Regions from separate parts of the Homo sapiens genome. Here region 2 is linked to region 1. The links come from fine-mapping of genetic effects on gene expression. A gene starts in region 1. The other region holds a variant in brackets. All regions are shown on one strand. Distances are from middle to middle.

The links. PIP is the estimated chance that this variant, and not a neighbour inherited with it, causes the effect.
Region 2: its variant is the best candidate, but not a certain one, in a credible set for the expression of HAVCR1 in monocytes after R848 (Quach 2016, PIP 0.52).

What each region holds. Positions count from the first base shown.
Region 1 is chr5:157,054,777-157,063,576 of GRCh38, forward strand. HAVCR1 (hepatitis A virus cellular receptor 1) reads right to left here and starts at 4,340. Exons shown (of 9, transcript NM_001173393.3): 1 at 4,145-4,340; 2 at 3,122-3,179; 3 at 425-757. The coding sequence starts at 3,167.
Region 2 is chr5:157,082,437-157,091,236 of GRCh38, forward strand. It overlaps HAVCR2 (hepatitis A virus cellular receptor 2), which reads right to left. Exons shown (of 7, transcript NM_032782.5): 6 at 6,505-6,541; 7 at 3,396-4,858. The coding sequence ends at 4,666. Among named protein-coding and RNA genes, the nearest start is that of HAVCR2, 22 kb to the right of the region's middle. The variant C/T (reference allele first, on the strand shown) is at 3,835.

The sequences.
Region 1 (8,800 bases):
AATATTTCAGTAAAACAACCAATTGCATAGTATTTACATTGTATTCGGTGTTATAAGTAATCTAGAGATGATTTAAAGCATATGGGACTATGTGCATAGTTTACATGCAAATACTACACCATTTTATATAGGGACTTGAGCATCTGCAGATTTTGGTATCAAGGGGGTCCTGGAAACAATTTCCCATAGATATCAAGGAACAATTGTACTGCTGTAGGAGCTAGTTTGCTGATTCTAGCCTGACCTTGAATTATGCTTGGCCTTGTAACTTCATCTACACAAAAGTTATTCTATTTCCCAAGAACAAGAGTTTATTTAAAAACAGGACTTACGGGAACCTCCTCTTTCCCTATTAAGAAAAAAGAAAATTACTACCGAACAGAAAATTCAATTAACTAGCAAGAAATATCAAAGAAAAACTTACGTGGCACAATCTCCAATGATACGGTGATTTTCATGTCATTGAACCACCCACGGTGCTCAACACGGCAACAATATACGCCACTGTCAGACACAGCTGTATTTTCTATGGTCAAAGAGACATCCCTTCTTGAAAGGTCCCCCAATAGCTTATAGCGTGTGTCCTTCCGATAGGTGACGTGGGTTCCATTGGTCCAGACAATGCCATTTTGGCATGTGAATAGAGAACATGAGCCTCTATTCCAGCACATGGATGTGACAGCTCCACTGTAGTGGCAGGGTAGTGTGACAGATGGACCTGCCTCTCCACCAACCTTTACAGAACCAGCTACAGAATCTGCAAAGAAGAAAAGACAAACTGAGAATGAGCCCTCACTATTTCATCTTGGCTGGGCACAATGGCTCACGCCTGTAATCCAAGAACTTTGGGAGACCAAGGCAGGCAGATCAACCCAGGTCAGGAGTTCAAGACCAGCCTAGCCAACATGGCAAAACCCGATCTCTACTAAAAAAAAAATTACAAAAATTAGCGGGGTGTAGTGGTGTAATCCCAGCTACTCAGGAGGCTAAGGCAGGGAGAAGTGCTTGAACCTGGGAGGCGGAGGTTGCAGCAAGCTGAGCTCGTGCCACTACACTCCAGCCTGGGTGACAGAGCAGACTCTGTCTCCCCCTCCCCCAAAAAAAAATTCTCTTAATTTTTTTTACTTGTTTTACTTTCTTTAAAAAAATATTTTATTCATTTTTTAATTGTTTATTTTTTATTTTTTTAAGACAGAGTCTTGCTCTGTCACCCAGGCTGTAGTGCAGTGGCGCAAAGATCTTGGCTCACTGCTACCCCCGCCTCCTGGGTTCAAGCAATTCTCATGCATCAGCCTCCCAAGTAGCTGGGATTACAGGCACATGCCACCACGCCCGGCTAATTTTTGTATTTTTAGTAGAGACAGGCTAGTCTTGAACTCCTGACCTCAAGTGATCCACCCACCTGAGCATCCCAAAGTGCTGGGATTACAGGCATGAGCCACCATGCCCAGCCTTGTAAATAGACATTATAGCTGGAAGGTTTTTCCCCTTTTTCCAAGTTAGCTGATATAGCTGGAATTTTTAAAATTTGAGATTATAAGCATTTTTCTATGCTAGCATTCTTTTAATTTTTTTTTTTAGACAAAGTCTTTCTAAAAAGAATTTCTTCTTTTTTTTTTTTGAGACAGAGTCTTGCTCTGTCGCCCAGGCTGGAGTGCAGTGGTGTGATCTCGGCTCACTGCAAGCTCCGCCTCCCAGGTTCACGCCATTCTCCCGCCTCAGCCTCCCCAGCAGCTGAGACTACAGGCACACGCCGCCACGCCCGGCTAATTTTTTTGTATTTTTAGTAGAGACGGGGTTTCACCATGTTAGCCAGGATGGTCTCGATTTCCTGACCTCGTGATCTGCCCGCCTTGGCCTCCCAAAGTGCTGGGATTACAGGTGTGAGCCACCACGCCCGGCCACCAAGAAATTCTTGTTTAATTTTGCCTAATACTAGTATCATTTTTTTGGATTACACATATAATGCATGCTATTACAATTTGGTTATAGAAGTATATAATGAGAGATTATTTTTCCCCCATAATCCCAAAGGCATATATCACTCCAGAAATTTGTGTTTAAAAATTAGGATATGTCTATTTTACTCTTTCCTTATCTCATAGAATGTTTTGAATTAAAGTGTTTATTTCAAAATAAAATACTTAGGCCAGATGTGGTGGCTAACGCCTATAATCCCAGCACTTTGGGAGACTGAGGTGGGAGAATCACTTGAGCCCAGGAGGTCGAGGTTGCAGTGAATCAAGATTGCCCAACTAGGCCAGGCGCGGTGACTCACGCCTATAATTCCAGCACTTTGGGAGGCCGAGGCAGGTGGATCACAAGGTCAGGAGTTCAAGATCAGCTTGGCCAAGATGGGGAAACCTTGTCTCTACTAAAAATACAAAAAAATTAGCTGGTAGTGGTGGCAGGTACCTGTAATCCCAGCTACTTGGGAGACTGAGGCAGAGAATTGCTTGAACCCAGGAGGCGGAGGCTGCAGTGAGCCGAGATCACGCCACTGAACTCTAGCCTGGGCGACAGAGTGAGACTCTGTCTCAAAAAAAAAAAGATTGCCCTACTGCACTCCAGAGTGAGACCTCATGAAGAGAGAGAGAGAGAGAGAGAGAGGAAAGAAAGAAAGAAAGAAAGAAAGAAAGAAAGAAAGAAAGAAAGAAAGAAAGAAAGAAAGAAAGAAAGAAAGAAAGAGAATTGAATGTGGCTGAAAAAAATCGGAAGGCACAAAAAAATACAATAAGGATTAACTCTCCCTCCACCTCCCACCCTCTGCCCCCATCCCACATTACCCACTGTCACTATTTCCTATATACATGTGTCTATGCATATACATCTAACCACACCCTTTTTGTTTAAACACAAAGGGCAGCCTGTGACACACTGTGCTGCATCTTGCCTTGTTCATTTAGCCATGAATGTTGTAATTCACAGCAGTTAAGCAATTTCTTTGGCCTAAAACTTTATTCTGGTCCTGCTCACTAGTTAACTCATAGCCATACAACGGTACCCAAAGAACATCTACATTAATCCACCACCACCATCCCCTCCCCTTCCCCTACCCCATTCTCTGGCTTCTAACCCCCCTCTACTCCCTTCTTCCCGCCCAGGGCACCTACTCACTTACCTGCCAGATGTAGGATGAGGCTTAAGATGACCACTTGAGGATGCATTATGGGATCAGCCTGAAGGAAAATGAGCAGACAGGCTGGTTGGTACCCTCCACCAGATGGTATCTGATCAAGTCTTAAATCTCAGATTGCAACTTATCTTTTCACCCAGTTGGTTGATTCATATGAGCCTGCTCTGCTGGAAATGAGAGAAGACCACATATAACGGCTTCAGAGCTCTGTTAGTTCCCTGCAGCTGAGAGCTCTGTGCCTTCCAAAGGACAGGGAAAGCTGTCCACAGAAACAGCCCCTGACTTCCCAGCTTCTTCCCCACACATAACCGCCAAACTGACTCCTGGTCCTGATACAGGGTATCAGGGGAACAAACAAAAAGGAAACAGGGCCGGGCGCGGTGGCTCAAACCTGTAATCCTAGCACTTTGGGAGGCCAAGGCGGGCAGATCACGAAGTCAGGAGATCGAGACCATCCTGGCTAAAAGGGTGAAACCCCGTCTCTACTAAAAATACAAAAAATTAGCCGGGCGTGGTCACTGGCGCCTGTAGTCCCAGCTACTCGGGAGGCTGAGGCAGGAGAATGGCGTGAACCCGCGGGAGGCGGAGCTTGCGGTGAGCCGAGATCGCGCCACTGCACTCCAGCCTGGGCGACAGAGCAAGACTCCGTCTCAAAAAACAAAACAAAAAAAAAGAAAAGAAAAGGAAACTGGAAGCAGAGAACCAGCGTGGCTCAATGGCAGCACGAGAGCAAATGCCAGCCTTCCAGTGGCAGAGATGCACTTGCTTTTCAGAGTAAACTGGGCCTCTGGTGGACGTGGAGCTTTTCCTACTCAGTGGCCACAACGACTTATCCCTAGCCTTAACAGTCATATTGCCAAGTTTGCCATTAGCAAGAGAAATTGAGAGTGAATGTGAATCACTGTGCCTAACCTTTCATGCTCCTGTACAACATGCTTCAGACTACACCTCCTTACCAAGGGACTTCAAGAGAATGCTTCAGGAAACAGAAGTCTGGAGCAGACTTACGTTCAGATCCAGGCTCTGTCACTCACAATGCTGGGTAACCCTGAGAGTTCCTGAGTTCTCTTCAAACCTCTATTTCCTCAGTTGTAAAATAGCACTAAAAATGCTTCCTCTATCTCCCACCAAGGATTGATATAATAAGCAAAAAGGGCCACGGAAGAACTTGGAAAACTAAACCTACATCATATGCAGTAATAGCACTAGCTGAGGTTTTTGGAGAATACTATATAGCAGGCTCTGTGTCAAGCACCCACATGCGTTAAATCGGGCTGTTGACTTCTGCTGTTAATCATTAAACCATACAAACATGAGTAAGCTTGCCTAGTACTTCATTAACTCCTCTTCTGGTCTAAGAATTCAGTAACTTCCAAGGAGGCAGTGGTGGTCTGTATCTTGCAGCTCATGACAGGGTTCATGGGGAAGTGGATGATCTCAGCATAGTGTTTTGTATGGCAGCGTTTAAAAATTCATTTCTTGACCGGGCATGGTGGCTCGTGCCTGTAACCCCAGCACTTTGGGAGGCCGAGTAGGCCAGTCACCTGAGGTCGGGAGTTCAAGACCAGCCTGGCTAACACGGTGAAACCCCGACTCTACTAAAAATACAAAAATTAGCTGGGGGTGGTGGCGGGCGCCTGTAATCCCAGCTACTTAGGAGGCTGAGGTAGAAGAATTGCTTGAACCTGGAAGGTGGAGGTTGCAGTGAGCCGAGATCAAGCCATTGCACTCTAGCCTGGACAACAAGAACAAAACTCCATCTCAAAAATAAAAATAAAAATTCATTTCTTGCCAGGCACAGTGGCTCACGCCTGTAATCCCAACACTTTGGGAGGCCAAGGCAAGTGGATCACCTGAGGTAAGGAGTTTGAGACCAACCTGGGCAACATAGCAAGACTCCCTCTCTGCAAAAAAAACGAACAAAAAATATAGTCAGGCCTTGTGTACCTGACCGTAGTCCCAGCTACTCAGGAGGCTGAGGCAGGAGGGTTGCTTGAGCCCAGCAGTTGGAGGCTATGATTGTGCCACTGCACACCAGCCGGGGTGACAGAGCAAGACCCTGTTTCTTAAGGAAAAAAAGATTGAAAAAAAAAAGCTAATTCAATTCAACCAGTTATTACTAACATATTGAGCTGATGGGACATGACTCAATATACTAGGGACGTCAAAAATCCAGACTTGTGCAATCGGGCAGGGACATGGGTAAGTAAGCAACTAATGAAATCAGGATAAGTGAGGTAAAGGTAAATATATAATCAGACTACATCATTCCCCCACTTATAACCCTCTCATAACTCTCTCAGAAAAATAATAATAATAATAATAATAATAATTCCTAAATCTTTACTCAAATTACTGAAGCCCTGGTGGTCTGGCCCTGACCTACCCCATAGATTTCTTCTACCACTCTCTCCCCTGCTGACTCAGCCCCAGCTACTAGAGCTTTCTTTCCAACTTGCCTCAACCCTAAGGCCTTTTCCGTGGCTGTGTTCTCCATCTAGCTCCCCAGCCCCACCATTTTCACTTTTTTCCTTTTCATTTTTATCCCGGCTTAAATATGACCTCCCTGGACATTTTTCACAGGTCCTTCAATCTAAAGTAGCCAACCAGTCCCTCTCACTATTATTATCTTGTTTTCCTTAATCCATTTTATCTGTGTGTGCAATATATGTGGTGTCTGTCTCTATTCCCTCCTATAGAGTGCTGCCCGGTAGAATTTTAGTAATGGAGTTATTCTGGTAACGGAGTTATTCTGGAACTGATGAGCCACAGAGAGCCAAGACAGGGATGTGGAGCCAGTGCTCTGAGATGTTACATAACTGTACAATTCCATAGGATTTGAATTTGAATTCCATAGGATCGATTCTGTCTCCAGTAGAATATTGGTTACAGAGTTATTCTGTGTGAGTGTCGTGCACTACAGCAGCCACTAGCCACATATGACTATTGAGCACTTGAAATGTGGCTAAGGCAACCAAGGCATTTTTAATTTTTTTTTTTTCCAAGACAGAGCCTGACTCTGTCACCCAGGCTGGAGTGCAGTGTCACAATCTCAGCTCAGTGCAACCTCCATCTCCTGGGTTTAAGTGATTCTCTTGCCACAGTCTCCTGAGTAGCTGGGACTACAGACACGCGCCACCATGCCTGGCTAATTTTTGTATTTTTAGCAGAGGTGGAGTTTCACCATGTTGGCCAGGCTGGGCTGGAACTCCTGGCCTCAAGTGATACGCTCATCTCAACTTCCAAAAGTGCTGGAATTACAGGTGTGAGCCGCCATGCCTGGCCTAAAAATTTTTATTTAATTTCATTTTAATTAAAATTTCAGATTGCTTGAGCCCAGGAGACAGTCTTCGGGGAGTTGAGATGGCACCACTGCACTCAAGCCTTAGATGACAGAGCTTTCAAAAAAATAAATTAATTAAAAACAAAAAAATAAAATTTAAATTGTCACACATAGTGACTGTGTTGTGTGGCACCCAACTCCAGACCATAAACTCCTTTAAGGCAATTTAAGTGTTGAAGCCAGGCATGGTTGCTCACACCTGTAATCCAAAGGAGGCCGAGGTGGGAGGATCACTTGAGGTCAGGGGTTCCAAACCAGCCTGGCCAACATGGTGAAACCCAACTCTACCAAAAATGCAAAAATTAGCCAGGCGTGGTGGCGGGTGCCTGTAATCCCAGCTACTCAGGAGGCTGAGGCAAGAGAATCGCCTGAACCCGGGAGGCAGAATTTACCCTGAGCGGAGATCATGCCACTGCACTCTGGCCTGGGCCACAGAGTGAGACTTCTCAAAAAAAAAAAAGTTATTAATTGAATAGATAAACAAATGGAAACACAAACCCATAGGGAAAGACCATTCATTTTGATGACGGAATGTGGGGGGTGGGAAGAATTTCTTAAAAAGTGACATGTGAGAAGAATGGGTGGAGGGTGTTTCAACTGGAGGAAATGATGAGCCAGAGAGAGCCAGGACAGGGATGTGGAGCCAAGGCTCTGAGATGTTACATAACTGTACAATTCCATAGGGTTGAATTTTCTGACACAGGACCATCTCCCATGAGAGACGCCTGTGTTCTAAAGACTCCCAAACAATATAGCACAGTGGATTTTTTTAATGAGCTATACAACCTCCAGGGATCACTACTCTTTAGGGCAAACTTCATGACCCCCCTGAAGGATGCATCCCAGTTGTAGGGTAAAGCTGGAAGTGACAATACTTGGGCACCAAAGCTGAATTTCCAGCTGCTCACTAGGGAGCTGCATCTGTATAAACCAAGATTAACGGCAGTGAATTGAAATGATTCAGAACATGGGCCGGGCACGGTGGTGGGTGCCTGTAATCCCAGCTACTTGGGAGGCTGAGGCAGGAGAATTGCTCGAACCCGGGAGGTGGAGGTTGCAGTGAGCTGAGATCGTGCCACTGCACTCCAGCCTGGACAACAGATTGACACCCTGTCTCAAAAAAAAGAAAGAATTCAGAAAAGAAAATAATTCACTGTTCTTTCTTGCAATCACCACTTACTTCCCTGCTATCTCAGCGCACATCGTACCTCCAGCTCCAGCCTCCTGCAAAACAGTTCAGCTGTTCATATTCCCCATGCTTTCACCACAGCAAGATCTTCTTAGGCCCCCTCCACAACTAGGGACTCACCAACTCCACATCATTGTACCTGTCAGTCTCTCCCTCATCCCCATCACTTTATATTAGGCCTCTATAATCCAGACTTCTGCAATTCCCTCCAAAACTGTCTTCCTACCTTTCAGTTCTCTTCCTGCCCTGCCCACTGCCCTAAGCTAGTTATTTTCCTTCACTTACTCCTCTGATTTCATAACAAGTAATATAATGCTTCTTTTTTTTATATCTTTTACAAAGATATAAAAATTACAGGGTACCACCTATGTTTACCATAGAAAATACATAAAAGCCCAAGTATGGTGGCTCACACCTGTAATCCCAGCACTTTGGGAGGCCAAGGCAGGAGGATCACTTGAGGTTAGGAGTTCAAGACCAGCCTGGCCAATATGGCAAACCCCTGTCTCTACTAAAACTACAAAAATTAGCCAGGCGTGGTGGCGCGTGCCTGTAGTCTCAGATACTAGGGAGGCTGAGGCAAGAGAATCGCTTGAACCTGGGAGGTGGAGGTTGCAGTGAGCTGAGATCACACACCACTGCACTCCAGCCTGGGTGACAGAGCGAGATTCTGTCTCAAAAAAAAAAAGAAAGAAAGAAAGAAAGAAAGAAAATATATAAAAATACCAAAAGTGTACTCATTTAACAATTATTTGTTGATGATCTGCGATATGTTAGAAATGATCCTATTCATCTGGAATGTACCAATGAACCAAAGACCCCTGGCCTCATGTAACTTACATTTTTTTTTTTTTTTTTGAGATGGAGCTTCGCTTTTTTTGCCCAGGCTGGAGGGCAATGGCACGATCTCAGCTCACTGCAAACTCTGCCTCCTGGGTTCAAGCGATTCTCCTACCTCAGCCTCCCAAGAAGCTGGGATTACAGGCATGCATCACCACACCGGCTAATTTTTGTAATTTTAGCAGAGACGGGGTTTCACCATGTTGGTTAGGCTGGTCACGAACTCCTGACCTCAAGTGATCTGCCCGCCTTGGCCTCCCAAAGTGCTGGGATTATAGGCGTGAGCACCACT
Region 2 (8,800 bases), 28 kb after region 1:
GGGACCATTGATCTGCTTCAAATGTGTCGTGAAGTTTCTTCTCACTAGGATTTCATGGCATTAAGACACTTATGGGCTGGGCACGATAACCCAACGCCTGTAATCCCAGAACTTTGGGAGGCCGAGGCGAGTGGATCACCTGAGGTCAGGAGTTCGAGACCAGCCTGGTCAATATGGCAAAACCTCATCTCTACTAAAAATACAAAAAATTAGCCGAGTGTGGTGATGTGCACCTGTAATCCCAGCTATTTGGGAGGCTTTGGTAGGAGAATCACTTGAACTCAGGAGGTGGAGGTTGCAGTGAGCCAAGATTGTACCAATGCACTCCACCCTGGGCGACAGAGCAAGACTCTATGTCAAAAAATTTAAAAAGACAGTTCAGATTAATTTTTTAGCCTGTATGAGAGCTGTTCCCTACAATTAATTTTGCAAAATGATCTCCCTTACGTATCTGCCTACAGAATGTCAGTCTGTCCCGAAACTATCTAGATGCAGCCCAATGCTCTAATTCACACGAGACTGTCAGAAAGACTTCTAGAAACAAGCAGGCTGGCGACAGCCTTGCTGGCCAACATCTTCTGCATGCAACACAATCACAGCTTAGTCATCACCTGGGGAGGACCAGTTTTTAGGCAGTGATAGGCCCATATTGTTAATTCATTCCGATGTGCTGAGGATGGCTCAGCAGAAAGAAGGAAATAGACAAAAGAGTAAGACCCCAACAAAGGCCTGAGCTGAACAATGTTGAGAAACAAAGGCCACTTTGGCCTGGATAAGAGTTAATATGGGGCTGGGCACAGTGGGTCACACCTGTAATCCCAGCAATGTGGGAGGTCGAGGCGGTCAGATCACACAGTCAGGAGCTTAAGACCAGCCTGGCCAACATAGTGAAACCCCGTCTCTACTAAAAATACAAAAATTAGCTGGGTGTGGTGGTGCATGCCTGTAGTCCCAGCTACTTGGGAGGCTGAGGCAGGAGAATCGCTTGAACCCAGGATGCACAGGTTGTGATGAGCCGAGATTGTGCCACTGCACTCCAGCCTGGGCAACAGAGTGAGACTCTGTCTCAAAACAAACAAACAAACAAAAGAGTGAATATGGGAGCTTCTGGGTATTTGTGAGTTCCCTAAGAAGTGAACTTGCAGAGTCACACTCTCTCTGAGCTGTCTAATGGAAGTCTTCCAGAAAGCTACCTTTCTGATTATTTAAGTTTTTCACTCCAAAAATATTTAGTCCGGGCACGGTGGCTCACGCCTCAAATCCCAGCACTTTGGGAAGTCGAGGCAGGGGGGATTGCTTGAGCCCAGGAGATTGAGACCAGCCTAGCCAACATGGTGAAACCTTGTCTCTACTAAAACTATGCAAATTAGCTTGGCATGGTGGTGCATGGCTATAGTCCCAGCTACTGGGGAGGCTGAGGCAGAAGAGTGAATTGTGCCCAGGAGGTCAAGGCTGCAGTGAGTGAAGATCATGCCACTGCACTCCAGCCTGGGCGACAGAGTGAGATTCTTTTATTATTATTATTATTATTATTATTATTATTATTATTATTATTATTATACTTTAAGTTTTAGGGTACATGTGCACAGTGTGCCTGTTAGTTACATATGTATACATGTGCCATGCTGGTGTGCTGCACCCATTAACTCGTCATTTAGCATTAGGTATATCTCCTAATGCTATCCCTCCCCCCTTCCCCCACCCCACAACAGTCCCCAGAGTATGATGTTCCCCTTCCTATGTCCATGTGTTCTCATTGTTCAATTCCCATCTATGAGTGAGAACATGCGGTGTTTGGGTTTTTGTCCTTGCAATAGTTTACTGAGAATGATGATTTCCAATTTCATCCATGTCCCTACAAAGGACATGAACTCATCATTTCTTATGGCTGCATAGTATTCCATGGTGTATATGTGCCACATTTTCTTAATCCGGTCTATCATTGTCAGACATTTGGGTTGGTTCCAAGTCTTTGCTATTGTGAATAGTGCCACAATAAACATACGTGTGCATGTGCCTTTATAGCAGCATGATTTATAGTCCTTTGGGTATATACCCAGTAATGGGATGGTGGGGTCAAATGGTATTTCTAGTTCTAGATCCCTGAGGAATTGCCACACTGACTTCCACAAAGGTTGAACTACTTTACAGTCCCACCAACAGTGTAAAAGTGTTCCTATTTCTCCACATCCTCTCCAGCACCTGTTGTTTCCTGACTTTTTAATGATTGCCATTCTAACTGGTGTGAGATGGTATCTCATTGTGGTTTTGATTTGCATTTCTCTGATGGCCAGTGATGATGAGCATTTTCTAATGTGTCTTTTGGCTGCATAAATGTCCTCTTTTGAGAAGTGTCTGTTCATATCCTTTGCCTACTTTTTGATGGGGTTGTTTGTTTTTTTCTTGTAAATTTGTTTGAGTTCAAACAGAGCCAAATCATGAGTGAACTCCCATTCACAATTGCTTCAAAGAGAATAAAATACCTAGGAATCCAACTTACAAGGGACGTAAAGGACCTCTTCAAGGAGAACTACAAACCACTGCTCAATGAAATAAAAGAGGATACAAACAAATGGAAGAACATTCCATGCTCATGGGTAGGAAGAATCAATATGGTGAAAATGGCCATACTGCCCAAGGTAATTTATAGATTCAATGCCATCCCCATCAAGCTACCAATGACTTTCTTCACAGAATTGGAAAAAACTACTTTAAAGTTCATATGGAACCAAAAAAGAGCCCGCATCACCAAGTCAATCCTAAGCCAAAAGAACAAAGCTGGAGGCATCACGCTACCTGACTTCAAACTATACTACAAGTCTACAGTAATCAAAACAGCATGGTACTGGTACCAAAACAGAGATATAGATCAATGGAACAGAACAGAGCCCTCAGAAATAATGCCGCATATCTACAACTATCTGATCTTTGACAAACCTGAGAAAAACAAGCAATGGGGAAAGGATTCCCTATTTAATAAATGGTGCTGGGAAAACTGGCTAGCCATATGTAGAAAGCTGAAACTGGATCCCTTCCTTACACCTTATACAAAAATTAATTCAAGATGGATTAAAGACTTAAACGTTAGACCTAAAACCCTAAAAACCCTAGAAGAAAACCTAGACATTACCATTCAGGACATAGGCATGGGCAAGGACTTCATGTCTAAAACACCAAAAGCAATGGCCACAAAAGCCAAAATTGACAAATGGGATCTAATTAAACTAAAGAGCTTCTGCACAGCAAAAGAAACTACCATCAGAGTGAACAGGCAACCTATAAAATGGGAGAAAATTTTCGCAACCTACTCATCTGACAAAGGGCTAATATCCAGAATCTACAATGAACTCAGACAGAGCGAGATTCTATCTCAAAAAACAAACAAACAAACAAAAAACAGTAAAAAAAAATTTTTAGTAAGTTCCAATTGTGTGTCAGAATTGTGCTAGGCGCAGGGGGCAACAATAAGCAAGACAGATCAAGCCTATACCGTCTTGAAATTTAAGTTTAGGGACCACTCTCTGTCAAAGGATCCAGCGCTGGTAATATAGATTGCTGAAGGCCTTTGCCTTCTTTCCACCAGGCAACAGAATTTGTGTCCCCGTCACTGCTTCTTCTTCTGTGAAAAATATAGCTTCAGTTTGGTCCACGAATACAGAAGTTGGTCAGAGATATTTTCTTTCAAGCACACAACAAGCAAAACTTGGCCAATACACACCAATCAAATGCACTTCGTTTTTCCCTGGGAGCTCCTGCCACATCTCAGCCCTGCAGGGCAGTCTTCATAAGGGAGACAAAAGAAGGGCTATGCACTGGCACTGACAGTTGGGCAGG[C/T]AGTGCTCAAATAAGCCTAAATCTCAACATTCCAAGGGAATCTTCAAGATCAAGGTAGACCTGGTCCAGTCATCTCTTAATCTTTTAAGGATCACTGGCTGGATGTGGTGGCTCACGCCTGTAATCCCAGTGCTTTGGGAGGCCGAGGCAGGCAAATCATGAGGTCAGGAGTTTGAGACCACACTGGCCAACATGGTGAAACCCTGTCTCTACTAAAAATACAACAAATTAGCTGGGCATGGTGGTGCATGCCTGTAATCCCAGCCACTCAGGAGGCTGAGGCAGGAGAATCGCTTGAACCCAGGAGGCGGAGCTTGCAGTGAGCCGAGATTGTGCCATTGCACTCCAGCCTGGGCAACAGAGCAAGACTCCATCTCAAAAACAAAAAACAAAAAGGGATCACAGATCTCTTTGAAAATCAGTGGCCCCTTTAGACTTTCTGTGCCAAAAAAGTTATGCTTTCACCTCAGCACCCAGTTTTCCCTAGTTTATCTGAAGTTTCATGGACATATGATGTGCCCGAATTTCCTGGAGCTCCAGAGACCCCACGTCAAGAATTCCTAGTGTATATAAAAGCCCGTTTGAGCTCTAACATCCATGATTAACAGTCTCTGGGTTGGGTAACTCTGTTGGCTTAAATACAGAGGCAATGACATGCCTGTTTAAGTTCAGTGCAGGTCCCAGTTCAATTCCCATGTGAGTCATTATCTTCTGAAAATGGGAAAACTCTGCTCCATAGCAGTGGACAGAACCTCCAAAACCAGTCAGGTGACACAGCTCATAGTTTCTGAAAAAGACAAAACACCAAGCTCAAAAATAAGGTGGTTGGATCTATGGCATTGCAAAGCGACAACCCAAAGGTTGTGAGGGTTGCTGCCTGCTGCTGACATAGCAATAATACTCATTGGGCTCCTCCACTTCATATACGTTCTCTTCAATGGTATAGATGTTTTCTTCTGAGCGAATTCCCTCTGCTACTGCATTTGCCAATCCTGAGGGAGGGAGGTTGGCCAAAGAGATGAGGCTGTGGAAATAAAGTGTTGCGGTTGAGTTAAGCATTTCCCAGGTAACACGGAATAGAGTTAAGAGAATAGGCTTTCCCAAAGAGACAGCAACTAAATATAGTGCATGATCTTTGATCAGATGCTGAACAAGTGGAAAAGCCAAGAAATAGCAATAAAATACTATGGGGAAACAATTGAGAAAATGTCCATTAATTTTAATTTTCTTAGGTATAACAACAGCATTGTGATAGCTAAGAGAATATTTTTATTTCTCGGAGGTGCAGGCTGAAGTTTAGGTGAAGTATCAAGATGTCTGCAATTATGTACACATTTAGATTTTCAAAAAATGGGCCGGGCGCCGTGGCTCACGCCTGTAATCCCAGCACTTTGGGAGGCTGAGCCTGGCAGATCACGAGGTCAGGAGTTCGAGACCAGCCTGGCCAACATAGTGAAACCCCGTCTCTACTAAACATACAAAAAATTAGCCAGCGTGGTGGCATGCACCTGTAATCCCAGCTACTTGGGAGGCTAATGCAGAGAATCGCTTGAACCCGAGAAGCAGAGGTTATAGTGAGCCGAGGTTGTGCCACTGCACTCCAGCCTGGGTGACAGAGCCAGACTCCGTCTCAAAAAAAAAAAAAAAAAATTATTAATGCTTTAGATAGCATTCAATGGACAGAGGTTTTTGTTTTGTTTTGTTTGATGCTGGGTCTTTCTCTGTCACCCAGGTGGGAATGCAGTGGCACAATCATGGCTCATTGCAGCCTTCATCTCCTGTGCTCCAGCAATCCTTCCACCTAATGTTTCCATTTTTTTGTAGAGAAGAGGTCTCATCATGTTGCCCAGGCTGGTCTTGAACTCCTGGGCTCATGTGATCCTCCCACCTCAGCCTCCCAAAGTGCTGGGCTTATAGGCGTAAGCCACAGCACCTAGCCCAGAATCATTTTTGTAATCCAAATATATTGTATTCCATTCATGTGCCAAACATCACTAAAAGTCTAAAATCTAGTAAGTTATGTAAGCCATACCTATTTGAAATGGATGTGTGGGTGTGTATAATCAGGAACGAAGGTCAAGACAGGAGTCTATAACAGACTAGCAGTTCTCAGCCCTGACTGTTCACTAGAATCACCTGGAGAGCTTTTAGAACAATTTCTATGCTTAGGCTTCATCCCCAGAGATTCTGATTCAGTTGCTCTGGGGTTGGCCCTGCATTAGTACACTTCAGTGCCTGGGTGATTCTAATAGGAAACTAAAGTTGAAAATGCCTGGGCTGTTTACAGAAATGCTGAGAACAGATACTGGGTTTCTTGCTCACTTCTGTAACGCCTAAGTGCAGCCCAGACCCTGGATATAATAGGAGCTCAATCCGTTGATGTTTCAGTTCAGTGGAAAAACCATTAATATCGAGATGAATAAGCATGTTGTATTATTAGGGTGATAAATTCTATACCTTAACTTTAGAACTAAAGAAGCTAGAGGTGTCAGGAAGTACACACAGTAGCATGTTACATTTTCACTTCATAACTAGACCTAGAGAAAGAAGGAAGTATAAACTCAGATCTCAAAGCCCCAGGACAGGATTTCTCAGAGAAAAGATCAGACATGTTAGAGTAGGGACTTCCAAGATTCTCACCTTTTCCCAACCCCATTCCATTATTCTTACCTTAAATTCTGTATCTTCTCTTTGCTATGAGAATACCCTAGTAAGGGGGAAACAAAAGCCAATAAAAATGCATTCATAAAATAAATGAGACAAGAAATCAAATAGGTTCACTGGAAGCACGCATAGTTTAGGGAAATCTGGTCTCATCTCAGATTGAGTTAAATGAAACTCTCAACGTGTGCCTTAGATAGTTATATGGACTGTGTTAGAAAATAATAATAAAGATGCATTTTTCTTATTTAACAAATATTATGAGACCTCTACTATGTGTCTGGCAGTTTGCCTGGCACAAGGAACACAGGAACATAAAAGTGAATTGTGAGCCCTAATTTCACGAAGCTCACGCTCTCCTGTGGGAGACCAAAGAAATAAAAGAAAACAGTACCCCAGACCCAAGACCAGCCTGACCAACATGGAGAAACCCCGTCTCTACTAAAAATACAAAATTAGCTGGATGTGGTGGCCCATGCCTGTAATCCCAGCTACTCGGGAGGCTGAGGCAGGAGAATCACATGAACCCGGGAGACGGAGGTTGCGGTGAGCCAAGATTGCGCCATTGCACTCCAGCCTGGGCAACGAGAGCGAAACTCCGTCTCAAAAAAAAAAAAACAACAACAAAAAGGAAATAGTAAATAGGAAAACAAAATAATTTCAAATTATGATGTATTATAAAGGAAACCAACATCATAGTGAAACAGATAATAGAGAGGGTGGTCAGGGAAGGACCCTCAGAGATGAACTTTAAGCTCGTTTCTGAAATGAGTCAGCCAAGTAAAGAGCCAGAAGGAGCATTCCAGGATGAGGGAGCCCCTTGTAAAGATCTTGCTGAGTACCTGAAACTGAAAACGTGGCTGGATTAAGGGAGCGGCCCAAGATAAGGTCTGAAAGGTAGGCTGGGGCTAGGTCCAATAAGACCTTTCCAGCCATAATCAGGAGTCTGGATTTTATTCTAAGACCTGTAGGAAACCTTAGATTTCCTTGAAGGGCAGAGATGTGATCCTTATTTGTTTTGGGTTTCTTTTACCCGCTGAAAACAACTACGTTATCTCATCATTTCTGTGTTGTGGGTCAGGAATCCAGGTGTGGCTTACTGGGTACCTCTGGATCAAGGTCTTTCAAGGTGTCTTCTGGGGATGCAGTTTCAAAAATTTGAAACTTAAAATTTTCCTTTCTTTTCTTTTCTTTTTTTTTTTTTTTTTTTTTTTTTGAGACAGGGTCTTGCTCTGTTGGCCAGGCTGGAATGCAGTAGTAAGATCATATCTGATTGCAACTTTGAACTCCTGGGCTCAAGGGATCTACCCATCTCAGCTTCTGAGTAGCTAGAACTATAGGTGCACACTACCACAGCTGGATAATTTTTTTTAATGTTTTTGGGCTGGATGCAGTGGCTCACGCCTGTAATCCTAGCACTTTGGGAGGCAAGGCAGGTGGATTTCTTGAGCTTGGGAGTTCGAGACCAGCCTGGGCAACATGGTAAAACCTCATCTCTACTAAAAATACAAAAACTAGCCAGGTATGCTGGCACATGCCCGTGGTCCTAGCTACTTGGAGGCTGAGGCAGGAGAGTTGCTTGAACTCGGGAGGTAGAGGTTGCAGTGAGCCATGATCACACCACTGCACTCCAGCCTGGGTGAATCTCAATATGTTGCCCAGGCTAGTCTCAAACTCCTGGCCTCAAGTGACTCTCCTGTCTTGGCCTCCCGAAGTGTTAGGATTATAGGCATGAGCCATTGTGCTCAGACATTGATTTGGGTTTTAATATTGGATTCGAAGGAGGAATAAAGAAATGAGAAGATAAATTAAGTAGAAATAATGGTGTCTTGGAGTAAGGAATGGCCAAAAGAGATGCAGAATAATGAAAACACTTTAGATGTATGTTGGAGGAAGACTGCAGGAATCTTCTGTTGTTGTTTTTCTCTGAGACAGGGTCTCCCTGTGCTGTGTCACCCAGGCTAGAATGCAGCAGCAAGATCATAGTTCATAGCCTCAAACTCCTGGGCTCAAGTGATCTTCCTGCTTCATTCTCCTGAGTAGCTGGGACGATAGGCGTGCACCACCATACCCAGCCCTAAGGAATCTCAACATCTAAGGATCAGGCAGAAGAAGATCTGAAAAGCAATGGATCAAAGAGAAGAATGTCATTTCAGAAGCCAAGAGAAGGAGGACTTTCTAGAATGAGTGATCAATTTAAAAGGTTGACTATAATAAAGATAAAGGTATCAGGCTGGGAACGGTGGCTCACGCCTATAATCCCAGCACTTTGGGAGGCCAAGGCGGGCAGATCATCTGAGGTCAA